4 linked regions of the Homo sapiens genome follow. The protein of the gene in region 1 interacts with the protein of each later gene in a biochemical or structural test. Each region holds a gene or a part of one and is shown on either strand. Other genes may lie near its edges.

The links.
Region 2: the proteins of HERC1 (region 1) and BAK1 interact in a test that uses a peptide from one of them, tested with the Homo sapiens proteins (one study listed by BioGRID).
Region 3: the proteins of HERC1 (region 1) and PKM form a complex in vitro, tested with the Homo sapiens proteins (one study listed by BioGRID).
Region 4: of the proteins of HERC1 (region 1) and SOX9, one has a biochemical effect on the other in vitro, tested with the Homo sapiens proteins (one study listed by BioGRID).

What each region holds. Positions count from the first base shown.
Region 1 is NC_000015.10:63,634,946-63,641,983, reverse strand, and holds part of HERC1 (probable E3 ubiquitin-protein ligase HERC1), read left to right. Parts: intron 1-340; coding exon 341-514; intron 515-1,538; coding exon 1,539-1,832; intron 1,833-3,207; coding exon 3,208-3,273; intron 3,274-3,447; coding exon 3,448-3,573; intron 3,574-4,340; coding exon 4,341-4,479; intron 4,480-5,841; coding exon 5,842-6,023; intron 6,024-7,038. UniProt on the Homo sapiens protein: Involved in membrane trafficking via some guanine nucleotide exchange factor (GEF) activity and its ability to bind clathrin. Acts as a GEF for Arf and Rab, by exchanging bound GDP for free GTP.
Region 2 is NC_000006.12:33,572,052-33,577,276, reverse strand, and holds the end of BAK1 (bcl-2 homologous antagonist/killer), read left to right. Parts: intron 1-1,348; coding exon 1,349-1,484; intron 1,485-1,835; coding exon 1,836-1,979; intron 1,980-2,751; coding exon of another isoform or gene 2,752-2,962; exon of another isoform or gene 2,963-3,056; intron 3,057-3,062; coding exon 3,063-3,243; intron 3,244-3,369; coding exon 3,370-3,474; 3' UTR 3,475-4,725; downstream 4,726-5,225. UniProt on the Homo sapiens protein: Plays a role in the mitochondrial apoptotic process. Upon arrival of cell death signals, promotes mitochondrial outer membrane (MOM) permeabilization by oligomerizing to form pores within the MOM.
Region 3 is NC_000015.10:72,214,157-72,221,194, forward strand, and holds part of PKM (pyruvate kinase PKM), read right to left. Parts: coding exon of another isoform or gene 7,012-7,038; intron 4,955-7,011; coding exon of another isoform or gene 4,942-4,954; coding exon 4,788-4,941; intron 3,345-4,787; coding exon 3,253-3,344; intron 1-3,252. UniProt on the Homo sapiens protein: Catalyzes the final rate-limiting step of glycolysis by mediating the transfer of a phosphoryl group from phosphoenolpyruvate (PEP) to ADP, generating ATP.
Region 4 is NC_000017.11:72,116,269-72,124,026, forward strand, and holds the start of SOX9 (transcription factor SOX-9), read left to right. Parts: upstream 1-4,751; 5' UTR 4,752-5,123; coding exon 5,124-5,554; intron 5,555-6,450; coding exon 6,451-6,704; intron 6,705-7,274; coding exon 7,275-7,758. UniProt on the Homo sapiens protein: Transcription factor that plays a key role in chondrocytes differentiation and skeletal development.

The sequences.
Region 1 (7,038 bases):
CTATCCTTGTAGTCATGTCAGACATGACTTTTGAAATATAGTAGATGCCTTATTCTGCAGGTTCTGAAGAAATAGTTAATTATTGACATTTTTTCCTTAAAAAGTACCAGCTAATCAGAGGTAGTTCACAAATTTTATTATTTCTCATTATTTTTTACTTAGACAAAATTTAGGATATTTTGAAGTTCCATAGGCATTAAAAGCATAGCCTTTTTGGATATAAAATATCCAAAAAGCAAAGATGTCCCAGTTACTAGAAGGAATTTCGCAGATTAAATGGTGATAGCATTATTTTTTATTTAAACAAATTTATTATGTGGCATGATTTATTTTCAACCAGGATGTTTTGGTCGTGAATTGTACAGCAGAATGGGCAGCTGCCAATCATGTTTTGGCAACCTGTAGGACAGCATTGAAACAGCAGGGTGTTCTGGGATTGAACATGGCTCCCTGCATGAGAGCATTTTTGGAGCGGCTCCCCATGATGCTTCAGGAGCAGTATGCCTATGAAAAGGTAACTCATTACACTCACTCCTAGAGATACACAGATACCTGGTGCTTTGGAATGTGATTATAGCCTTGAACTTATCCCTTAAAAGCATGAGGTCTGAGGATAATAAGTGGGGCTATTTGGGCAGAATCAAATGAAGGTAAGTCATGCCTAAAAGAGTTGTTCAGCAACCCTAAGCCTATTCTTGCTTTATTTTCACCAGAGTAAAATAAAGAAACAAACACCAAGTTTGTATTACTGCTTTTCAGATTATTTATTCACTCCAAAGCTTCTTAAAATACCTATGCAGCAGAATATCTTCCCTTTTCTGACCCACACATATATCTATTTTTATATGGCTTGGCCATTCCAAAGTTGAGGGATAGGGATGGATGCGGGTATCAGACTGAATATCGTCTCCACTTATTAGATAAATCTTTGTGGAAAATTTAGTGGAAGAGCTATGTTGAATTGAGTAGGGTCATTAAATACTGGAATGAGGAATTGCAGCGTTTGAACTTGTCCAGACAGTGATCCTAAAGTAGCCTGTCTTCCAGCTTTTTGCTTTTCCTTTGATGGCTACCAGGATTCTCTTATAAAGGAGGAAAGTGAGAAGAGCAGATCTCTGTGGTTAAATAGTTACCTGCTTTTTTTTCCAATCAAGAAAAACCATGATGAAAATGTACTATATGCAGTGTGATAGCTTAGATTGGATCCTGGAGCAGAAAAGGAGTATTAATGGGAAAACTGAGGAAAACCAAATAAAGTTCTGTGGTTTAGTTAGTATTGTACCAATGTTAGTTTGTTAGTTTTGATAAATGTGCCAGGGTTGTATAAGATGTTAACATTGGATAAAGTTGGGCGAAGGGTATACAGAAATCCTCGGTACTATCTGTACAACTCACTCTAAATCTAAAATTATTTCCTAGCAAAAAGCTTAAACAGTAAACTTGAAAAATATGATTCCAGACTTTCAGACTACGGTAGGTTAATTTAGAATATTTGGCACAAACTCTTTGACATATTATATCCTTGTATTTTGTTTTAGCCTCATGTGGTTTGTGGTGACCAACTTGTTCATAGCCCCTATATGCAATGCTTGGCTTCCCTTGCTGTGGGACTTCATCTGGATCAGCTGTTGTGTAACCCTCCAGTGCCACCACACCACCAGAACTGTCTCCCTGACCCTGCATCCTGGAATCCAAATGAATGGGCCTGGTTAGAATGTTTCTCAACCACTATAAAAGCTGCCGAAGCCCTGACCAATGGAGCCCAGTTTCCAGAATCTTTTACCGTTCCAGATCTAGAACCTGTTCCAGAGGATGAACTTGTATTTCTAATGGTAAATGTACTGTGAGCTGCTATTATTTGCAGCTGAGATTTTATCATGGGTATTGGGCATGTAGCAGACCCCTAATAAGTCTTTGCTGGTATGCATGGCTAGAAGGATACCCTTAAGAGAAATGGAAAATATTTTTCTTTCAGATAGTCACTTTCAATCTGATGGCAGGCCTCCATAGTGACAGGAATTGATAATGTAAGCACTGTTGAACTCTTGTAAACCTGCCACCTCTCAATGACATAGTCCCATATTTTCTCATTTTCTTTTGTCCATAGGTACTTTGTTAGTGCTTTAGTTGTATATATCTTAGCATCTTTTCCTGGTCATCTTGTGGGTTATATGCCACATATAGATTCTAATTTATTTGGCATTTCAATCATGTCTTTAATTAGCATCAAATAAAATATAGAAGAGCATTCTAATTGTCATTTCATTCTGTTTGTATTTGAGAGTGTCTACTCTAGAAACTGTGACATAGATAAAATACCTGTTTAGACTACAGGACAGCACATGATCTAACAACCTCTTTGTATACTTAAGATTTATGTATACAAACATTTGGATAAACATTGATACAATATGAAACAGACAAATATAAATTAAGTAAAATTATGTAACTGTAGCTATGCATCACTTAATGATGGGGATATGTTCTGAGAAATGCATTGTTAGGCAATCTTGACGCTGGGAATATCATAGAGTGTATAGTACTTACACAAACCTAGATGATACAGCCTACTTGCAACAAGACTATACGGTATAGTCTGATTACTCCTAGGCTACAAACCTGTACAGAATATGACTGTATTCAATGCTCTAGGCATTTGTAACAGTGATAAGTATTTGTGTATGTAAACATAGAAGATATAATAAAAATAAGGTTTTATAATCTTAAGAGACCATCTTCACACATGCAGTTTGTTGTTGACTGAAATGTCACGTGGCACAAAAGTATACAATATTTTAATCAGAAAATGTCCTTCTAAGCCCATTTGGCCCAACTCTGTAATTTTGTAGATGAGGAAGCTGAAGCCCAGAAAGATGAAGTAATTTGCCCACAGCTACACAAAGAGTTTACAGGGGTGTGGGGTCCTCCACATGACCTTGTACCTGTGGGTGTTCAGAAAACACATGGCTAGCTTTGAATCACCAATGCCATAGTGATAGTGATAGTGAAAGTGTTTATAATAAAGGGAAATACTGACAGTGCATAAAATCAAGTTTGACATAATTATAAAACTGCTCTTAATTTATCATAATATTACCATATTCTTTTTTGGAAATAAGACTTAATGATTAGAAGAGGACTTTGTGGTTAAGAGCAGGTGCATCTTGCCTAAGCAGAATTGATCATTATGTACCCCCTGTTTTTCAGGATAACAGTAAATGGATTAACGGCATGGATGAACAAATTATGTCTTGGGCAACTTCCAGACCTGAGGTCAGTAAAGATGAAGATAACTGTATGATGGTTCTCAGTCAATGTTTTGATTCTAAATGCTTGTGTGTTTGTGCCCTGGTGTCTCCCATACAGGCTGGCACACACTTGGTACGTAGTACATGGCTGTTTGAGTGAATGGATGACTCTAATTTTGAGATGATTGTGGTTTTCTAGGACTGGCACCTGGGAGGTAAATGTGATGTCTACTTATGGGGTGCTGGTAGGCATGGACAGCTGGCAGAAGCTGGAAGAAATGTAATGGTACCTGCAGCAGCTCCCTCATTCTCACAGGCCCAACAGGTAACTAACAGGATAAAAAATAGAAAAGAAACATGGGAACTGAAAATTCTAATTCTTTTGCTTGTCTTATTGTGGGATAAAGCTTGTCCATTTCATAATCTATTATGAGGAATCATTAAAGAAAGTCATGATATATAGCTTTCAAATAAAAACTTGGTGTGGTTTTTATCAGACTTAAGAAGTTAACAAATTTCTAAATTTTTCTTTCAAGTTTAATGAACTAACATCATGATGTGTTAGGCCTGCCCAGTATGTATTTCTAGCAGTTTAGATACTCCTAATTAGTGATTTTCTCTTTGGGGCTAAAAACTTCCTAGGATCTTTAGCCAGATTTTATCGACCACTCCCCTTTTCTAATAATCCTGGTACGATATAGCGCCAAACCCTTCTCGAGGCCTCTGCTTTCTCTTTTGCTCTTCTTTACCTCAGCTAGTCCAGATTGCATGACTCATTCTTATGTACGAGTTTCTGCTTCTTTCTAGCCCAGTCTTTAATGTTTCCCCATCACCCCTTCCTTTTTCTTTCATCCATTTTGTTGTTCTAAACTATTTTAAATGGATGAATCTCATACATCTCTTGGTTAAATAAGCAGTTTTATAGTCATCAAGGAGTTACGGGACTGCATAGTTATATCAACTCTTCCCTTTCAGTAAAAGGATAAAACAATTATAAAAGCATTCTATGTATACGTGGAATCATTTCAAGTGCTTGCATGTTAAAGCAATATAATAAAGAATAAAATATTTAATTCTGTGTTTTTATACTAGGTCATTTGTGGTCAGAATTGTACCTTTGTCATCCAGGCCAATGGCACAGTGTTGGCTTGTGGGGAAGGAAGTTATGGCAGATTAGGACAAGGAAATTCAGATGACCTTCATGTGCTGACAGTTATTTCAGCCTTACAAGGTAAAATTGTCCTTAATAAAAAGATGGTTAGAACCTAAGGCCTAATGTAGGTTTGGTCGTACAAACCTTTGCCCTTCTCAAACCTTTGCTAGATAAAATCATATCAGGTTTTCACTTACATTTAAATCCTTATTTAGGCATGTGTGCAGCCTTAATTTCCATATTTTAAGCTATATTGCAGGTTACTTATAGCAATGCTAGAATTCAGTGAAATATAAATAACACTTTTTGAGACCCACTGAAGATTGTAAACAAATGCTTAAAAATTGCAAAAGTGTAAGTAGGCAGATGTTAATAGCAGTAGCAATCATGCATGTATTTCATTAAAATTAAAAATCAGTTTATATGGAAATCTGCAAATGTGCTAAAGACTTTAAAGGACATCTTCATCAGAGTTCTTTGTGACTTGGAGAGAGAACACCTTTGGAGAAACCACTGTACAAGCCCCCGGCTTGCTCATTAACTGAACTCATAATGACTCTGAAGCCTACAAAGAGAGCACCGACGGTTTTTTTAGGTAAAAGCATACAAGTAACTATGAGTTCAAAACAAGTTCCTAGAAGCTCAGGTTCTTTTCATTGTGATCTGAGTGTGAAGAGCACAGCAGTAAAGATGAGAATGTGTGCTGGGTTCCTATGGGTTCTACTGGTCCTTGGCTCTGGGACATTGCACAAGCTTCGAGACCTCTTTGTGACTCAGTTTTCCCACTTGTAAAAATGGGATGTTAGTATCTGTTTCATAGGTGCTATGTGAAAGTAGAAAATGAGATAATCCATGTAAAGCATTTATAGGAGTGGCTAGAGCATAGCCAGTCATTAATGACTGTAACTATTGCTGTCATCCTCGTTTTCCTTGTCATCACCATTATTTTAGGTGACTATTCGCAGTTTTGCTAGGTTATGGCTACAAATTCAATTTAAAACTAAAGAAATTAGGCCGGTTACTGTGGCTCATGCCTGTAAACCCAGCGCTTTGGGAGGCCGAGGTGGGCGGATCACTTGAGGTCAGGAGTTCATGACCAGCCTGGCCAGCATGGTAAAACCCTGTCTCTGTTAAAAATACAAAAATTAGCCAGATATGGTGGCACATGCCTGTAATCCCAGCTACTCAGGAGGCTGAGGCAAGAGAATCACTTGAACCGGGGAGGTGGAGGTTGCAGTGAGCCGAGATCACACCACTGCACTCCAGCCTGGATGACAGAGTGAGACTCCATCTAAAAAAAAAAAAAAAACTAATGAAATTATTCTTATTTTCATAGTACCAATTCGGTGGTTTTTGATTGAGGGTATTCAGTAGCAGCTGCAAGTAAAGAGGAGAGTTTTAACATCCAGTGACTCCTGTTGGGTTTCTGTTCTGTTCCAGGCTTTGTGGTGACCCAGCTGGTGACTTCCTGTGGTTCTGATGGGCACTCTATGGCCCTAACTGAAAGTGGTGAGGTCTTTAGCTGGGGAGATGGTGACTATGGTAAACTTGGCCATGGGAACAGCGACAGGCAGCGGCGGCCCAGGCAGATCGAGGCCTTACAAGGAGAAGAAGTGGTGCAGGTCAGGCAGGAAATGGATAAGTTTGCCTTTCATTGTAAATATACTAGTTGTTGAATAGGTTTCTTAAAATTAGGTAACAGAAAATATAGTAAAAATATATTACACAGTAATTATAAGAGATCCATTGGTTTTGGATGTTCAGATTCATTCTTGAGCTTGTCAGAAGTTTGAATAGGCTTTGGTGTTAGTATTGGTCTTGTTAGTATTGGTTAGAATGGTCTTTTTCGTGAGCCAGCTGGTTGGCCCAGACTAGGGTGCTGCACGCCCTTGGAAGGAATATTGTGTGGTTTAACTTCTGCCACACAGTTCTTAATACACAGATAAAAGGAAAACTTTGCTTTTAACCTATCATTTATGTTACAAAAGCTAAGTTAACATGCATTTTCTGGAAAATAGTGTTCTAAAATCATATTGTAAGATTGTATAGCACCTTATAGTTTACAAACAATTTCCCCATTTATTATCTCATTTAGTCTAGGTCATGTGTACACAGCTGAAGAGTAGCAGTAGTTACTCCAGGGTATGCTGTTCAGCTTGGGCTTCCTGAGGCTGTTGAGACAGATCAGACTTGGGAGAGCAGGAGAGCAACTTGGGCAGATAAATGTACCAGTTGGCCAGATGCAGTGGCTTATGCCTGTAATCCTAACACTTTGGGAGGCCAAGGCAAGAGGATTGCTTGAGGCCAGGAGTTTGAGACCAGCCTAGACAACATAGCAAGACCCTGTCTCTACAAAAAATAGAAATAAATAGCCAGGTGTGGTAGCACATGCCTGTAGTCCCAGCTACTTGGGAGGCTGAGGTGGGAGGATTGCTTGAGCCCAGGAGTTTGGGGCTGCAGTGAGCTGTGATCACACCACTGCACTCCAGCCTAGGTGACAGAGCAAGACACTGTCTCTTTAAAATTTAAAAAAAAATTAAAAAAAAAAATTTTTAAAAGCATTGGTCTTTGAAGATCCAGTTTTCAGTGAAGTTTATGTAAAGTTTATTGCTATATTAATACCAAAAATGGCAGATT
Region 2 (5,225 bases), on another chromosome or scaffold:
AGAGGGCTGGGTCACGGGCGAGGGAGGCAGGAATTAGAGTGGGGCCTGGCTGCTGTATCCCTCCAGCGGGAGAAATAAGGAAGTAAGCTGGCCAATCACCCAGTCAGGTCTGCTCAACAGGGAACGCAATTATTGTGACTTGGGGAGGAAGTAAGATGGCTGCCCTCCTTCCCTCTTCCCAGGGGATAGCCAGGGAAGCCCCAGCTCACACCTCACGGCGGGCTGTTCCCTGGACTTGGGAATCAGGTCCCAGGTCTGTCACTATCTCCCTGTGTGACTTTTCTGGGCCGCAGCTACAAATTCAGATTTTGTTTCCCACATTTCCCTGCACGCAAAGGGCTGCGGAGCTGAGATGTACTAATGTAGACTCAGGACCCCAAATGCCCGGGACTGTCCCGGTTCCCCGGCTTGTTCTGGCTGTATGACCTTGCACACGTTACTCAGACACCCTGTGCCATTTTCCCCCTGCCAGCTGGGGATTGCCTGCTCCCAGGGCTACTGTGAGGACTCAATGCAAGTGCCGGAACAACTCTCCACACAGCATAAGCTCTAGGGGCGGCTAAGGTGCTGAAGTAGGGATATTTCTTTTCTTTTTTTTTTTTTTGTTTTTTTTGTTGTTGTTGTTTTGTTTTGTTTTGTTTTTTGAGATGGAGTCTCGCTCTATTGCCCAGGCTGGAGTGCAGTGGCGTGATCTAGGCTCACTGCAAGCTCCAACTCCCGGGTTCACGCCATTCTCCTGCCTCAGCCTCCCGAGTAGCTGGGACTACAGGCGCCTCCCACCACGCCTGGCTAATTTTTTGTATTTTGTTTAGTAGAGACGGGGTTTCACCATGTTAGCCAGGATGGTCTCAATCTCCTGACCTCGTGATCCGCCCGCCTTGGCCTCCCAAAGTGCTGGGATTACAGGCATGAGCCACCACACCCGGCCATTTTTTTTTTTTTTTTGAGACAGAGTTTCGCTCTTGTTGCCTAGGCTGGAGTGCAGTGGCACGATCTCCGCTCACCGCAACCTCCGCCTCCCGGGGTCAAGTAATTCTCCTGCCTCAGCCTCTTCTTGAGTAGGTGGGATTACAGGCATGTGCCACCACACCCGGCTAATTTTGTATTTTTAGTAGAGACAGAGTTTCTCCATGTTGGTCAGGCTGGTCTTGAACTCCCGACCTCAGGTGATCTGCCCACCTCGGCCTCCCAAAGTGCTGGGATTATAGGCGTGAGCCACCGCACCTGGTTGGGATATTTCTTTCCATGGGTGAGGACAGCTATGGCCTTAGGAAGAGTGAATCCCCTATAAGGCATGGGGCTGCCAGGGTTCGGCCCTCTCTCCCTGACTCCCAGCTTTGATCCTCAGAGGAGCAGGTAGCCCAGGACACAGAGGAGGTTTTCCGCAGCTACGTTTTTTACCGCCATCAGCAGGAACAGGAGGCTGAAGGGGTGGCTGCCCCTGCCGACCCAGAGATGGTCACCTTACCTCTGCAACCTAGCAGGTGAGCTACAACCGCTGGGCCCACAAGGACATCTTCAGGGAGGCAGTAGCTCGCATGGGTCTCTGTGCAGGTCCTGGGAGCTGGGGAGGCCTCGGGGGTCTTGCCCTTCTCTCATGGTTGCTCCTCTTTTATGTTGGGCTCCCACCCCCATCCAGGACCTTGTATCCTTTTTAGCCCATGCCTGCCCCTTCTCCTGGAGCCCAGCACTCATGTCTTAGAACACTGTCAGGGACCTCCAAGAAGGGATGCACAGGGCCATGGACAGCTCAGGCAGAACCCCTCTGCCATGAGCCAGGGCCTGGTCCCGACTGCCTGGTTACTGGCTCACCTGCATGCCTCCTGCTCCTACAGCACCATGGGGCAGGTGGGACGGCAGCTCGCCATCATCGGGGACGACATCAACCGACGCTATGACTCAGAGTTCCAGACCATGTTGCAGCACCTGCAGCCCACGGCAGAGAATGCCTATGAGTACTTCACCAAGATTGCCACCAGGTACCCCAGCCACCTCCCTGCCAGCTCCAGTCACTCCTCTGTCATGTCACAACCATACCATACCCTGCCTGCATGATGCTCTCCTGGCATGGGGAGAAGCCTTCTGTCAGTGTCCAATGTCTGCTGTGAACTCACATGTGGTCTCGGCCCCCTATTTTTCTCTTTCGGGGTCCCAGACTTGTATTTTGGGCATTAGCTCACAGCTCTTTTGAGCTCTGACTCCAAGGTCTTGACTGGTTAGATCAGGACTCTAGAGGGGGCCTGAGGTGGGGACGTCCCCCACAGCTCCCCAGCCCAGCTGGGACATAGCTGTCCTTCATAGTTCCAATTTGAAACCACATATCACACTGAAGATGGTGAGGGTGCTAACCTCTGCCAGGTCCTAGAAATGGCTCCTACTTGCTATAATCTGGCATCCAAGTGGTTAAAGACACCGAATATTTGGGTGCAAATCCAAGCTTTGCCACTTACTGCCTTCGTGAAGCTTCCTAGCCCTTAGTCTCCTGGTTTGTAAAATAGGGAAAATATGCTTAGATTAGTGTCCACCTTACAAAGTGTTAGCCATTGCTACCACCAGAGTTAGGGAAGTCAGTGTCGGAGTAGATTTGAAACTGGAGGTGAAGGTAGGAGTAAGTGATAGATTTTAGAATTAGTGCTCAGAGCTGAAATATCCAGTCCGTGAACTTAGAGGCCAGCCTTCATACCACTGTGATGACAGGAACTACCCTAATCTTTTCTGTCCTTTTCTCTCTGCTGTCCCTCGGGCTGCCAGGCCAGCAGCAACACCCACAGGTAATCTCCCCGCTGACTCCATCCACTTGCTCTGCCCTCTGCCCTCTCTGTGCCCCGTTGCACCTGAGCGTACACCCCAGCAGTGGCATCCAGCTCATCTGCCCCTGAGCTTTCTCCTTTCGCAGAGACCCAGGTTGTTCCCAAATACAGGCCAGGTTGGGGCAGCCTCTGCGGCCTTAATTCACAGCTAAGCTATTTAGCTTCCAGCTGGGAGAGGGGTGGGAGAGGCCAGGCAGGCTGAAGGGCTTCCTGGGGGCTCTCCACCAATGCTATGGGATGCTCTGCCCACAGCCTGTTTGAGAGTGGCATCAATTGGGGCCGTGTGGTGGCTCTTCTGGGCTTCGGCTACCGTCTGGCCCTACACGTCTACCAGCATGGCCTGACTGGCTTCCTAGGCCAGGTGACCCGCTTCGTGGTCGACTTCATGCTGCATCACTGCATTGCCCGGTGGATTGCACAGAGGGGTGGCTGGGTGAGTATCCAAGGACTGCAATGTCCTCCCTGCTGTTGGGGCTGCCCCTCTCCCAGGCCCCACCCCTTCCTCGGGTTCCTATATCTTCTGCTAGCCTCTCTGTGACCACCTTGTTTCTCCCGGCAGGTGGCAGCCCTGAACTTGGGCAATGGTCCCATCCTGAACGTGCTGGTGGTTCTGGGTGTGGTTCTGTTGGGCCAGTTTGTGGTACGAAGATTCTTCAAATCATGACTCCCAAGGGTGCCCTTTGGGGTCCCGGTTCAGACCCCTGCCTGGACTTAAGCGAAGTCTTTGCCTTCTCTGTTCCCTTGCAGGGGTCCCCCCTCAAGAGTACAGAAGCTTTAGCAAGTGTGCACTCCAGCTTCGGAGGGCCCCTGCGTGGGGGCCAGTCAGGCTGCAGAGGCACCTCAACATTGCATGGTGCTAGTGGGCCCTCTCTCTGGGCCCAGGGGCTGTGGCCGTCTCCTCCCTCAGCTCTCTGGGACCTCCTTAGCCCTGTCTGCTAGGCGCTGGGGAGACTGATAACTTGGGGAGGCAAGAGACTGGGAGCCACTTCTCCCCAGAAAGTGTTTAACGGTTTTAGCTTTTTATAATACCCTTGTGAGAGCCCATTCCCACCATTCTACCTGAGGCCAGGACGTCTGGGGTGTGGGGATTGGTGGGTCTATGTTCCCCAGGATTCAGCTATTCTGGAAGATCAGCACCCTAAGAGATGGGACTAGGACCTGAGCCTGGTCCTGGCCGTCCCTAAGCATGTGTCCCAGGAGCAGGACCTACTAGGAGAGGGGGGCCAAGGTCCTGCTCAACTCTACCCCTGCTCCCATTCCTCCCTCCGGCCATACTGCCTTTGCAGTTGGACTCTCAGGGATTCTGGGCTTGGGGTGTGGGGTGGGGTGGAGTCGCAGACCAGAGCTGTCTGAACTCACGTGTCAGAAGCCTCCAAGCCTGCCTCCCAAGGTCCTCTCAGTTCTCTCCCTTCCTCTCTCCTTATAGACACTTGCTCCCAACCCATTCACTACAGGTGAAGGCTCTCACCCCCATCCCTGGGGGCCTTGGGTGAGTGGCCTGCTAAGGCTCCTCCTTGCCCAGACTACAGGGCTTAGGACTTGGTTTGTTATATCAGGGAAAAGGAGTAGGGAGTTCATCTGGAGGGTTCTAAGTGGGAGAAGGACTATCAACACCACTAGGAATCCCAGAGGTGGGATCCTCCCTCATGGCTCTGGCACAGTGTAATCCAGGGGTGTAGATGGGGGAACTGTGAATACTTGAACTCTGTTCCCCCACCCTCCATGCTCCTCACCTGTCTAGGTCTCCTCAGGGTGGGGGGTGACAGTGCCTTCTCTATTGGGCACAGCCTAGGGTCTTGGGGGTCAGGGGGGAGAAGTTCTTGATTCAGCCAAATGCAGGGAGGGGAGGCAGATGGAGCCCATAGGCCACCCCCTATCCTCTGAGTGTTTGGAAATAAACTGTGCAATCCCCTCACCCTGACTTAGTTTTTGTATTCTCTGCTACCCCTCTTTCCATCAGGCCAGACTGTGGGAACCTGGGCACGCCTGGCATACATCTGGCTTATTACTGAATAAAACCTCACACTAGGCCTCTAGAATCCCATAGAGGCCTGAGTATGGTTCTGCAGCCCCCACTCCGATGGAAGGCGTTCGCCCCTCCCCATGAACTTCTCTCATCTCGTTGGGTTTCATGCAGTTTCCACCCTTTAGGAAGTCTGGGAGGTCCTTTAGCTACAGAGCTGGTGGAGCAGCTGCACATATCTGAGGACCCCCACAGGCTACCTCTGACCTGGGCTGAATTCTTCTCCCACCCTGGGGCTACCACCCACGCTGGTCCAAAAGGCCCTTCTCCCCCACATTTAGCTCTGCCTGGGACACAATGTCCCAGCTCCCCCTTCCTGATGTCTCCACAGTCAGCACACACGCAGGGCTTTCATTCTAGTTTTATGCTGCTTGGGAGTCCCTATGGGTACC
Region 3 (7,038 bases), 8.6 Mb from region 1:
CTTTGTTCTTAATTTCCACTAAAAAATTTTATCAGAGAATGTGTCTGTATAATTTCTACTTTATGAAACGTGGGGGTTTTTTTGGTGGCCTAATATATTTTTGTAACCATGAGTGTTTCATGCAAACATGCATTTTTGGTCTTGGGGATGTAAAACCATATATTATAAACATACCAATTATTAGGTATATTATTCAAATCTATGTCATATATCATAATCTCTTAGAGCATCTCTGGGAGGTGTACTGAGTCTTCCACTTCAGCTGTGGCTTTATTGGGATGTTATGTGGTAAAGCATCCATCAATGCTGTCCTGTGGAAGGCTCTACATTTAGGTTGTTTAAAAGTCATTATTTCTAGGCCAGGTGTGGTGGCTCACGCCTGTAATCCCAGCAATTTGGGAGGCCAAGGCGGATGGATCACTTGAGGTCAGGAATTCGAGATCAGCCTGGCCAACAAGGTGAAACCAAGTCTCTACTAAAATACAAAAATTAGTCGGGTGTGGTGGCAGGTGCCTGTAATCTCAGATACTTAGGAGGCTGAGGCAGAAGAATCTCTTGAACCCAGGAGGCAGAGGTTGCAGTGAGCCAAGATCGTGCCACTGCACTCCAGCCTGGATGACAGAGCGAGACTCCCTCTCTAAATAAATAAATAAATAAATAAATAAATCTGGAAAACATGGCATATGGAACCACATGTTCAGCAAGAATGCATCTTGCCCATGTGAACTGCCAAAAGTGAGGGCTGAAGACTAGTTGCCAAAGCTGTTAAAAGAGGGCTGGGCGTGGTGGCTCACGCCTTTAGGAGGCCGAGGCAGTCGGATCACCTGAGGTCACAAGTTCAAGACCAGCCTGGCCAACATGGCGAAACCCCGTCTCTACTAAAAATATAAAAAAATTAGCTGGGCGTGGTGGCACAGGTCTGTAATCCCAGCTACTCAGGAGGCTGAGGTATGAGAATTGCTTGAACCTGGGAGGCAGAGGTTGTGGTGAGCAGAGATTGTGCCAGTGCACTCCAGCCTGGGCAACAGAGCAAGATTCTGTCTCAAAAAAAAAAAGCTGTTAAAAGATCAGATGCAGACATTTGATGTCCCTCTGTCAGAGTGAGAGGGAAGACAGTAATCTCAACGTTCTGCTCAGAAGAGCATTTAAAATAGTCAGAAACTGGAAAAGTACGCCCCAGCCCCTAGTCAAAGGTGCACATGAAACGATAGCCCTGACGTATGGTAAGGCTGAAACTGTTTACATTACATTATATAAATTAGAATAATTTCAGATCAGTTTCCAAGCTGAGCCCACACACAACCTCATCTTGGTCTAAAACTTCAAAATGAACACACAAGAGGGACATCTTTAAAAAATAAATAGATAAAAAATAAAAAATAAATCTTAATTATAATCTGGGAATAGGAGTGAAAGTAGAGATAATCTCCAAAAGCCTCTTAAAGTTTAAAATACCAAAATCGGAGCCAGCTCTCATCCAGCAGGTGTGGCAGGTATCACTCGCCCTTGCCATGTTAGAGCTATGTGGTGTTATTTTACTGGATGAAGGAACCATAAAGCCTACTTAAAGGTCAACTTCTTAAAAATCTATTTCTGCTCCTTCCCCTGAATGCAGGAGCCCATGGCAGACTACAGCAGCAGGGATCAACAGCGAACAGACCTCCAGCATTGTCTTCAGCTCTCTCTAAGCTAAGCTAACACTTAATTCTCTAACAAGTAATTCTCGGTGACTCCTGCTAAGGACCCCTTGCTTTTGGAAAACTACAGAATTTTCCAAAAGGTACAGGGACATGTCTTAACCTACATGGTATGTCTGCTGGACTTGGTCAGGTCCCCATGACATTTAAGGGCCAGCCACTAGCCAGGCCATAGGCTGTTTATGAACACAGGTTAGGGAATCTATGATGAAGAGTCTTGTGTTTCCCAAAAGGAGGAATTCACTCTTGGATTGCATTTCCTGAGGCTTTATTTTTAGTCCAAACTTAATACCAACTTCCAAATGCCAGAGGGCAACCTCTGTAAGGCAATTGGCCTTACAGGATAGCATTTTCTTTACTCTCAACAGGAAATACAGAAGCCAAGACAGGTGCAAAGTTTGCCTCTTCTGTAATTCCTCTTATCAATGCCATTACGAAATCCCATGATCTATGGGAAACCTATGGTTAAGTCTGAAGGTTTTAAAAAGGCACAATCCCAGGCTGAGCATGGTAGCTCATTCCTGTAATCCCAACATTTGAGAGAATCACTTGAGCCCAGGAGTTTGAGACCAGCCAAGGCAATATAGTGAGACCTCATTTCCCCCAAAAAAATTTTTAAATTAGCCAGGTGTGGTGGTGCATGCCTGTATTCCCAGCTACTCGGGAGGCTGAGGCAAGAGGATCACTTGAACCTGGGAGGTCAAGGATCCAGTTAGCCATAATCATACCACTGCAGTCCAGCCTGGATGACAGAGCAAAATTTTGTTTTATAAAATAAAAAAATAAATAAGTCATGGTACCTCAGGGAACCCCAAGCTCCTCAGAATGGGTTAATTCTAAATCTGGCAATGGAGGCAGGAATGGAGCCATCCCAACAGCTGCTACCTGGCTCCTGGGCAAGGCCTCTGTCCATAGGTAAAGCCAGCTAATAAAGAGCCCAGCACAAATACAGTCCTACTAGGCTCCTGGGGAAGAGTGCTAACTGGTGTTATTTTAATGTACCAGAACCCCTGGGAAGGCACAGGCTGAGAATACAGTGCTGAGGAAGTGGGGTATTACACCCCAGATAGTGCTTATGCATTAGGCTCAGTCCCTCAAAACTTAGAATAGTGGAAACCGTTCTCATGGACCTGCCCAGTTATTTTGGTTCTAAGCTAGAATCAATCTGCTAGATGGTTTACCATGGCAACACAAGGTGAAGCAGAAACCCTGGGACAGGAGAGTCAAGCGCTGTGGCCAGGACACCTAAGGCTTAGAGGGTTTTCCAGTAGAACCTTTCCATATCTTCCTTTGTAAAAGCTAAGGGTAGGAGAGGTGTGTGGGAGAACCACAGCCAGCAACAAAGGGGGTCCTTTTTGCTAAAAGAGACTCAGCCAGTTGCTTTGTCAGGACAAGAGGGAAGGAGAGTAGGGATGGGCTAGTAAAGACAAACTTCACACTGACTGTGAAACTCAGACTCATCCTTGTCTAGTCCACTGTGGCTAAACGAACACTGCACCCCCTCCCTGTTTCCTACAGGCCATCACAATGGCCATAGGGTCCAGCCACAGCTCACCTCATGAGTTCCATGAGAGAAGTTCAGACGAGCCACATTCATTCCAGACTTAATCATCTCCTTCAACGTCTCCACTGATCGGGAAGCTGGGCCTATTAGGAAAAGTTTTAAAGCCACAAGTATTAATTATTCAAAGAAGGAAAAACATTTAAGTTTGCTTAAGTTTAAAGAATTTTTTTCCCTGAAAACTTTTCCTCTCCCAAATAGCTCAAAAGTCTTTAAAAAGTGCATGGAAGGCTACTACCGTGCCAGCTTACTTTCTTGATCTACTGGGACACTTCGACCATTTCCTTCAAGTTCTGCAGGCTCCCACTGTATCAGAAAAGCCTAGGTTAAGACTTGGCCAGCCTTCTCCACCCTCACTGAAACCCAGCCAGATGTCCAACCACAGAATCTTGGTAGCACAGAACATGTTAGAAAGATCTTTCCTAGGTCTTTAAGTTGCTCCTACAAAGACCTGCTAAGGAAAACATCTTCTAAATTTTGCCTATAGCATAAAACCTAAACCATATGGATTCTTTTTGCAACAAATTATTTTTTATTATAAACTGGTAATTTATAATTTGGGTTACAAAGTTATGTAATCCAATACATACAGTTTGGATACAATGTGGAATAATTAAATCAGGTTAGTTAACATATCCATGACTTCAAATACTTAACATTTTTGTGGTGAGAACATTTGAAATTTACTCTTAGCGATGTTTTTTTCTTTTTTCTTCCTTTTTTTTTTGAGGCAGAGTTTCGTTCTTGTTGCCAAGGCTGGAGTGCAATGGTCAGATCTCAGCTCACTGCAACCTCCGCCTCCCAGGTTCAAGCAATTCTCCTGCCTCAGCCTCCCAAGTAGCTGGGATTATAGGTACCCGCCACCACCCCCGGCTAATTTTTTTGTATTTTTAGTAGAGATGGGATTTCACCATGTTGGCCAGGCTGGTCTCGAACTCCTGACCTCAGGTGATCCACCTGCCTCAGCCTCCCGAAGTGCTGGATTACAGGCATGTGCCACTGCGCCCGGACAATTTTTTTTTCTTAAGACAGGATCTCGCTCTGTTGCCTAGACTGGAGTGCAGTGGTGTGATCATGGCTCACTGCAACTTCAATCTCCTGGACTCAAGTGATCTTTGTCTCAGCCTCCCATGTAGCCAGAACTACAGGTGCATGCCACCATGCCCAGCTAATTTTTTTTTTTTTTTTTTCACTTTTTGGAGAGACAGGGTCTAAGTTGCTCAGGCTGGTCTCAAATTTCGAGGCTCAGGCAATCCTCCCACGTTGGCCTCCCAAAGTGCTGGGAGCCACCATACCTCGCCATCTTAGCAATTTTGAAATGTCTAATACTCTCTTATTAACTGTATTTGCCATCCTATGCACATACTAATTCTTTACTGCAACTTCCTATGACCTGAGTCCTTTCATAAGAATCTGTGTAGTATCCCATGTAGCACCTAGGTTTGTTAGGACATTTAGTTACTCTTTTCAGGAGAGAAAGGTCACTGCCCATGAAGCCCTTTTTTGGGGGAAGGGGCACACCCACTCACCAATGGTACAGATGATGCCAGTGTTCCGGGCTGTGATGGGTGGTGAATCAATGTCCAGGCGGCACATGTGCTCCAGGAATGTGTCAGCCATGGCTGCGTGCAGCTGCTGGGTCTGAATGAAGGCAGTCCCGGCTTCACTATGGGGCTTCGACATGGCTGCTGAGGTCCTGGGTCGAGACAAATTGAAAGAGAGTGGTAAGACTGAGAAGTGGTTAATATACCATTTAGCACAGAAGGCTGTCTCCTGCTTACACATTAACTCAATAAGCACGCTTTGTACACAAGCCACAGGGAAGCCAGACATGATCTGGTTATGTGGGTGCTCCTCATGTTAGAAAAAGGGTTCACCAGATTGTGAACAATGGAAAGGACCTTACTGAACAAGTTAAAACCTCCCACCCACTCCACATAGTCCCAAGCACCCACAGTAAGCAGGTCTCTCTTACACTGGGCTGACTGACATCTACCTAGACAGCTTTCTCACCACCCTATCTATAAATAACATCATTTAACATGCACTGAAGGAGCTTCCAATGAAGGAAGTTGTAACCAATCTTCCAGTGATACAAACAACTGACTCCTAGCTTAGTGCCTTGATAAGCCTAGATCTCTGCATGTCAAGCTGTCACAAAGCTACAAATAGCTGCTTTGTCGTGGGGCACCCATATTGCCTCTTTACAATCCTCACCCAAACCCAAAGTCATTCCCCTGAATGCAAAAGCTTCCATCCCAGGAGTCTAAACCTAAAACCACATCTACTGTTGGCCAGAAGGATGTCAGGACACGCAAAGCAATTTGCAATTTGCAAAGCAAGGATAACATAAGGGCACTGGTATAATTCTGAAATTATCACAACTACATTAACAGGATAGTTGCAAACATAGAGAAATTAAAGTTGCTGGTCAAATCTTTTCCCCAAATGATTTTTGATACACATCCTGATTTCTTTTCTAAGCCTGACAAGTATACCACCACTCTGTAACACAGACCATCAGTTCCAGGTAATTAACTAGCCCAGGTCACAACCCTGACAATGGCCCCAACCTTTGCTTTCTTCATTAATGACTTACAACTAAACTCACTCAGCCTGTTAGTTAGCTGATTAGAGACAAAAACTCAGGAGAAGCTTCCAGGCAGTGTTTGAATAACTATCAGGTAAGGATGTGAACCAGACCAGGCAGTGTTTGAAGAACTATCAGGTAAGGATGTGAACCAGAAGCTTGCTACACGTCTCATCAGAAAGCTGTTTCCTTGAGTTCTCAGACCAAGGGCTACTCTTTCTAAAACGCTTGAGCCTAAATGCTTCGGCCAAGCAAGGCTCAGGAACAAGCTCCTCTTTAGCCCTTCCCCACCTCATCCTAAATCTCAAAGTTCCAAATCAAGGCATCTCACACATATGACCCTTACTCCTTTACCCTGTTCCATCTCTGACTTTGTGGGCTCTCTGGGTGGCTCGAGTAGAGTATACATCTAAATCCATCTCTGCCATCTCCAAAGAAGGCCCGCTGAGGTCCAAGGAGCTCTGAAGGCAGTAGTGAACAGTCTGTTGGCTATGGAAAACTGATGGCCACAAGTCCTCAACCACAGATTCTAAAACTTTTAAAATGGGGAAATAAGATACCGGCTAACGGTTCAACATGGCAAATGCACTCTTCATTTCGATGTGTATTTCCTAAGCCCCTAATATCTACTACGTACCAAAATGAAAAAATCAATCCTCCCTTCCAGGACCTATATGGTTTTGTATCTCCTAGCACCTAGTATGTGGAAGCATTCCAGTGTTTGTTAAATGACCTTTCAGTCTCTCTGAATGCCTCTTTGTCAGAATCAAAGTTATGCCTCTGCTCCCCCTTCCCTAAATCTGAGGAACTTCTGCATTACTGACAGGAAAGCCTGGGGCCCCTGGTCCCTTTCCCTACACTCATGGTTGAGGGAGGGCTCGCATACCTTCAGAGCTCCCAGCTGGGCTTAGGGAAGTCTGGCTGTTAAGGGAACATTACTGAGAGATGGCACATCAGGCCAACTGGAACACAAAGGCTTTGCTGTGGCCTCCAATGGGCCTACAATCTAGGGACTGTATTGTGAACAAAATAAGATCTGAATAAGTGGGTTGGAGTAACTAATTCCACTCTTTTTAAAAACCATCAGCTGGCTCTTCTTAGACCTGAGATATGAGGGTCTTCCTGTAAAGACCTGGCTGGGGCCACTGAATATCAGGTCATACCTTTGGTTCTCTGGGGTTGGGCTTCCG
Region 4 (7,758 bases), on another chromosome or scaffold:
TCTGATTAAGATCCGGAATAATCACCCACCCAATGGGATCTCTTAGAGGGAAGCGCTGGTTAGAATCCCTCCAGGCTGAGATGCAATCATCGCCATTGAGCCTGCCCTCCCCTAGGGAAACCCCACAAAACCATCCTGAGAATCTCAGCCCTCTTTGGTCGGTACCTGAGACTGCATAGACCTAAACTGAAAGGTGATCGAAGGGGAGGAGCAGTTGCTCGTGCGGAGGAAGCTCTTGGGGCCGAAGTGGCCCCGGCCGAGTATGTCGCAAAGGAGGCACCACTGCGTTGAGCGCTTACTGTATCTTTACTTTTAAATCACCAAGGCAAAATCACCTTCAGCTAAAAATGCCTGAAAGACTTTTTAAAATAGTGGGAGTGGGCGTTAGGGGGAAGAGATGGCCTAGGAAATTTTCCGCAGGGCGTTCTAGGGATGAGTTGAGGGAAGCCGCATGACGCGCGGCTCCCCGGTGCCACAGCTAAGGACAGATATTTTCGCAAAACCCAGAATGAAAAAAGAGCACGCTCCCTTTGGGAGCGCTGTCCCTTTGGGACTGGGGCCTTCCACTCCCACCCCTCCTTTTTCCCTGATCGGCTCCGCAGCTCCACGACAAGCCAGCTGGTCTGGTCTCTGACTTGGGCTCCGGTCCGTACCCCCGGGGCGCCCTGCTGTGTTACAGCCGCCCGACGCCCCCAGACCCGGCCAGGTCACCAGGGCAGATTGGAGGTTCGCGCCCCCTCACCCGACACCTCCCGTCCACCTCATCTTTCTTTTTTTCGAAAACAGGAAAGGGAAGAAAACTGAAACGGGCCTCTTGGTCTGCAGTTTTAGCGGAGTCGGGATTCCACAGCCCTGAGTGGCACATGCCGGTCAACTTCCCAAAGTCGGGCTCCCGTGTGGGGAGAAATACACACGCAGGAATGCACAAGCATCGCGTGTTCGCAACTGTCGCTGGGAGGTCTGGCGGCTGTGATGGGACATGCACTCACTCGGGCAACACGTCCACAGGTGACATCTATTCGATCAGTCAACAGATATTTATTGCGCACCTACGACGCTATCTGGTACTTTCCTTTTCCCCTTAGCTGTTGCTGTCCAGCCCAGCGCCAGTCCAGAGACGGGCTTACCGGCCGCTCCCTTCCACAAGAAACTCGTGTCCGGCGTGAAGAGCGGACGATAAACACTCTCCAAGCCCAGCGAAATGTACTAATTACAGGAGCGGCTGGGAGCCCGCGACACGGGGACCTGTCCCTCCAGGGATAGGAGTCTTCTACCTGCAAGGGACCCGGCCTGGGGAACTGGAATAGACAAGGGGTAACCCCTTCTCCCATCACCTCTAATGAGAACATTGTCCGGGGCTGAGATATTTGGGGGACGCCGCTGCTCACCCCACCAAACTTTCCCTAGGGACAGAAAAGCGTCCCTACCGAAAACGGATTTAAACACCGTCCCCACTTTTGCTAAGGAAGTTTGGATAGGGAGGTTGTGGTCCTTAATTCGCCAGGTAAAAGGAACCCCATCAGCTCGCATCCCTCACCCCCATCCTGAGCACTGAGTGTTTGCGAGAAACTCGCCCTGCGCCAGCAACTCTGGGCTCCGGTCTCAGCTCCCGCGTAGACGCGGAGGAGAGATTGGCGGCCCCCGCTGGGGAAATTGAGCCCGGCGCCGGTCCGGGACGTGCAAGAGGGGGAAAGGGGGAGATCCCAGACCTCGGTTTCCCGAGGGCTTCCCTGGGGAGCCACTCGCACCTCTGTGTCTCCGCTCCCGGCGGCAGACCTCGCGGCGCTTGCTCAAGAGCGGGTATCCGAAAGCACGTCCCGAACACGGAGAAGCGCCCTCCGTCTCCTGCCTCGTGACCTGCGCCCTTTCCCTCCCTCACCGCATCAGATGGAGGACCCTGGCTCCTTTCGCCCCTGGCAAAATGCTCTAGCCAACACTGGGTCAACAGCCTTAGTTTCCAGATCTGTAACCTGAACATCAGGAGCGGGTTCCTTTCCTTCTACCTGTGTCTGAGGTCCTCTGGTCGGGGACTGCGCGCGTCTTCCCAGGTCAGGGAGGAGGGGTCGGGGCGACCTGAGAAAGACACAACGAAGCGAATGGAGCCCCTGAATGGGGAAAGGGGAGTGGACACCAGGAGGCCCCTGCAGAAATGCAGGACCGATCCACTCGCGAGCTGACAATGCCACGCGCTAGACTTGGCCTGACGGTGGCAACGCTTGGCACCTGGGGGATAGGGGCCTTCTCCTGGCCTCAGTCCCCAAATTCTGCGCAGAATAGAACGGCTGGCATCTCAAGTGCTCTTTTTTCACCCGGATCTCTACAGACACAAGTTCCCTCACTGAGCTGCGCAGAGGTGGATCCGCACAGGAGGGAATATCGCGTAGGAATTCCTGCAAATATAAATCTCAGCAGCAAAGCAGTCCAGATTGACTGGAACACACCACCCCCAGCCACCACCATCCAAGTTTTCCCTGGTTCTCGGAGTTGGAAACAGTTTCTGGGCTTTTGGCGCCCCCTCTGGATACAGATGAAAACTGCAGTCCATTTTTAAGTCGCCTGTTCATAAGTTTTCAGGAAGATGTAAAATTCAAAAATGCTTGCATCAAATCAACGGGAAATGTATAAATCCCCGTCGTTTATGATGTAAAACTCTACATATTAGTATCTTATTGCATAATTGCATTAAAAGTATATTTATACATATACGTATATATCTTGACATATATTTAGTGAAATATTCCAAAATATCTTAAAGTCATAGCCCTCTTCACTGACTTTATTCCAGCAAACATGGTAATTACAATATCATACAACTAAGTACAGACGACCTGGCTAAAATGTCTGCCCGATGGTCTCCGAGTCTCCTGAATCAGGTGTCTGAGAATTACACAGTTATACTGTACACACAATGCCCTTCTACCCGGGACACAGAAATAGGTCCACACTACGCGGACTTTTTTCTCCTAGGAAAGGACGATGCTGTTCTTACACTTTCTGAAAGTAATCACAGAGCCCTGGATACGAAGCTATTGTATGCAAATCTCTTAAATTTGTAAACGAGCTATAGGGCACCAGAAACATCCCATTTGAAGAAGTTACATTCGTTAAAAAAAAAATGCTGTTGAACAAGGCTGTAACTTACTACCTTATGAAGAGTTCCATTTCCTATAAGAAATGTCGGGCTTCTTCCGAAGACAACGAGAGAAAACAAGATTTTAAGAAATTCTCCCGGAAGGACATTGATTTGGATCTTGTGATAGTGTCCTCACTTCGCAAATTAGAAAGGGAAAAAAAAACTAGTTTTTATTATGATGTGGGCCGATTCACCACAACAATAATTTAATTGAGGCGAATTTTTGCAAGAGCCCAAAAGGGTGGGGGGGGGGGGGGAGTTTAAAATTAAGAGTTTCCCAATGCTGTGCGTTTATTTGGGATTCTGAAAGCACAGAACCCGCAAGCGACCAAGACTTTTCTTCTATCCCAGAGCAGATAGCTCCGCACTTACCCAACCTGGCTCTAAGCATTTCGTGTAAACACAAAGGTTGTGCTCAAATCACACTTGAAATACATGAGAGACACCACCAATGCCTCCCCCAGAACTCCCAACTACATGCAGGTCTGAACCGACCGGACTAGAGTCAGAAGCACCGGCGCTTCACCCCTTCAGGTGTTTCGTAAATGCCAGCAAAAGCAGGCAAGCAGCATGACTCCGCCAGAGTGGAGCGTTTTGTCTGCGGTGGTGCCCATTTGTTTGGTCTTTTACAAACCAAGTGACCGGCCTGGGCCTCGCGGCCCGGGACAGCCGCATTGGCAAACTTCTATCTCTCAAAGCCAGAGCAGTTAGCAAACTCTCCCCCAGACAGGGCGACTCGGCTGACGTTTTTGACCCGGCCAGGAGGCAAAGACCAAAACGTCAGAGCAGTAGCCCTGTTACTGAGGAGCGTCGGCAGGGTCGCGGGTAGAGGGGGCTGGAGAATGACTTGTCAGAGCTCAAGGTCGATGTGGCGCGGGGCGGCCTCGAGAGCGCCGGGCTCCTGCGTGGCCACGGCCGCCGCTGCCAACCTTCGCGGGGACTTAGCTTTGCTTTCCATTGACTCCCTTTGCAAAAGCGCAGCAGAATCCTGACCAGCCGCACCAGCCCCGGCGAACCCGAGCATGTTAATCTATTTATATGGATTATTACGGAGGAACAGCGGGCGTTGAGTCACCAAAACATTTGCTTCAAAAGACTATTTCTAAGCACTTTTGCAGGCAGGCAGGCTCGCTCCAGGCGCGTAAACTCGGCTACGCATTAAGAAGCGGCTGCTTTTCGAATACTGCAAACTCCAGCTAAGTCCCCGGTGCCGCGGAGAGAGCAGTGAAAAGAAATGTCGGAGGTGGGGGTAGATCCTAGTCTAGACACACACACTTGCGCGCACACACACACACACACACACAAGATTCGCGCGGAGAAGGCACTAAAATTCTGGCATTCCGAGAGTACGACAAACTTACACACTTGGAAGTCCCGGGTCCCCCGCCTTCCCCGCAGCACCCCCCGCCCCCCCACCCTACCGTCCGCCCTTTGGCTGCGATCCCCTCCCCTCTCCTCCCCTCCCGCCTCGTCACCCAGCCCAGTGCCACAATCCTCCTCCCTCCCCAAAATCGGGTCCAATCAGCTGCCTGCCAACCCTGGGACTGCTGTGCTGTGATTGGCGGGTGGCTCTAAGGTGAGGCGGAGTATTTATTAAAGAGACCCTGGGCTGGGAGTTGGAGAGCCGAAAGCGGAGCTCGAAACTGACTGGAAACTTCAGTGGCGCGGAGACTCGCCAGTTTCAACCCCGGAAACTTTTCTTTGCAGGAGGAGAAGAGAAGGGGTGCAAGCGCCCCCACTTTTGCTCTTTTTCCTCCCCTCCTCCTCCTCTCCAATTCGCCTCCCCCCACTTGGAGCGGGCAGCTGTGAACTGGCCACCCCGCGCCTTCCTAAGTGCTCGCCGCGGTAGCCGGCCGACGCGCCAGCTTCCCCGGGAGCCGCTTGCTCCGCATCCGGGCAGCCGAGGGGAGAGGAGCCCGCGCCTCGAGTCCCCGAGCCGCCGCGGCTTCTCGCCTTTCCCGGCCACCAGCCCCCTGCCCCGGGCCCGCGTATGAATCTCCTGGACCCCTTCATGAAGATGACCGACGAGCAGGAGAAGGGCCTGTCCGGCGCCCCCAGCCCCACCATGTCCGAGGACTCCGCGGGCTCGCCCTGCCCGTCGGGCTCCGGCTCGGACACCGAGAACACGCGGCCCCAGGAGAACACGTTCCCCAAGGGCGAGCCCGATCTGAAGAAGGAGAGCGAGGAGGACAAGTTCCCCGTGTGCATCCGCGAGGCGGTCAGCCAGGTGCTCAAAGGCTACGACTGGACGCTGGTGCCCATGCCGGTGCGCGTCAACGGCTCCAGCAAGAACAAGCCGCACGTCAAGCGGCCCATGAACGCCTTCATGGTGTGGGCGCAGGCGGCGCGCAGGAAGCTCGCGGACCAGTACCCGCACTTGCACAACGCCGAGCTCAGCAAGACGCTGGGCAAGCTCTGGAGGTAGGACCCGGCGGGGGCGGCGCGGCAGGGTGGGCATCGCGGCGGCTGGGGGCGCTGGTCAGGGCTGATTTGCCCCGCCCCGCCTCCCATCGCCCGGGAGTTGCCGTTCCGGGAGCCGGCGGGATGGGGTTGGGAGTGGGAATGGGGTGTAACTGTGGCTCAGAGTTTGACAAAGTTCTTGGGCTGCTCGCGGGGACGCGGAGGAGGGGGGTGGTAAGTGGAAGAGGTGAGGGAGGTAGCTGGAGGATGGACGAAGACTGGTGGGAGACGGAAGGAGGGGGCTGCCAGCCTGCTCTCCAGTCGCCTGGAAGCTCAATCGGGGCGGGGAAGTGAAACTTGCCTCCCTCCTACCCGGCCTCTTAAAACTGCACTCTCTCGTGCAGCCCCACTGTCCACGGAGATGGGGCAAGGGAGAAACCGAGGTTGGAGGAGACCCTTGGCAGGAACTGGGAGGCGGGAGGAGGGAGGCTACTGGAAATAGGTGGGAGTGTATGGTGGGGGGTGAGAATTGGGGACCTTCTTGCAGCTTAAGTAATTTGGGGGAAAGTTTTCAAAGGGGGTTGGGGTTGGGGGCGGTAAGTCGAGCAGCAAAGGCGTTTAGGGGGCAGCACCGGGAGTCGTTTTCATCTCCAGCGTTTCCAAAATAGAAATAGAAGGGGAGGGGAGGGAGGGGGCGGGGAGTGACCGCTCAGGTCAGACTGCAATAACTTATTTATTTATTTATTTTTAAGAAAAGTTATGAGCTGTGGTTGCAGGCAGGAGGGAAGATGGAGTTGTGTGCAGAGGAAGCCGAGTGGTCTGGGTCGCCGCCTCCTCCCCGCCGACCTGACAGTTTGGCGGATTTCACTGACCCCTCTCCCTCTTTTTCTCTGTGCCCCCCGCCCCGCCCCGAGCAGACTTCTGAACGAGAGCGAGAAGCGGCCCTTCGTGGAGGAGGCGGAGCGGCTGCGCGTGCAGCACAAGAAGGACCACCCGGATTACAAGTACCAGCCGCGGCGGAGGAAGTCGGTGAAGAACGGGCAGGCGGAGGCAGAGGAGGCCACGGAGCAGACGCACATCTCCCCCAACGCCATCTTCAAGGCGCTGCAGGCCGACTCGCCACACTCCTCCTCCGGCATGAGCGAGGTGCACTCCCCCGGCGAGCACTCGGGTGAGTCGCCCCTCGACCCCACCGGACAAGCTATCTCCGTCCCGCCTGGCACACCCCCTGCCCTCCGCCTGGGAGATTCTTCGTGGGGACTTTATGCTTCCCGGGAGGGACACACTGCCCTTTGCGCCCGTCCCGCTCCCCTCTCTACCCAGAGCCTAAGAGGCATCCAAACAACACACACACAAACACACACACCCCAACTCAATCCCAGCATCCGAAGAGATTAACTTTTTTATTGGGAGGTAAAATGCCCTTAACAGCCTTACAAGACCTCTCCCTTCTTCTCTGCTCCCCCACCCCAAAAGCACACACAGGGCTCTTACACAAGTAGCAATTAGGTCTTCCGGACCCTCCGGGCCCCAGACCCTCCCCTGATAAAAGGGGGCTGTCCAGTGTGTACCGGCGGGTTAATCATTGGGCGACTTATCTCCGGTGCAGCGCGCCTCTTGCGCGGGTGCGGGCCCTTATTACACTTTAGCAGCGAGGGAGGGTCCCCGGAGGGTGCCTAAGACTAGGGCGTCTGCACAGCCCTTGTTGATTTTCTCGTGCTTGTTCTTTTATTGTCCACAGGGCAATCCCAGGGCCCACCGACCCCACCCACCACCCCCAAAACCGACGTGCAGCCGGGCAAGGCTGACCTGAAGCGAGAGGGGCGCCCCTTGCCAGAGGGGGGCAGACAGCCCCCTATCGACTTCCGCGACGTGGACATCGGCGAGCTGAGCAGCGACGTCATCTCCAACATCGAGACCTTCGATGTCAACGAGTTTGACCAGTACCTGCCGCCCAACGGCCACCCGGGGGTGCCGGCCACGCACGGCCAGGTCACCTACACGGGCAGCTACGGCATCAGCAGCACCGCGGCCACCCCGGCGAGCGCGGGCCACGTGTGGATGTCCAAGCAGCAGGCGCCGCCGCCACCCCCGCAGCAGCCCCCACAGGCCCCGCCGGCCCCGCAGGCGCCCCCGCAGCCGCAGGCGGCGCCCCCACAGCAGCCGGCGGCACCCCCGCAGCAGCCACAGGCGCACACGCTGACCACGCTGAGCAGCGAGCCGGG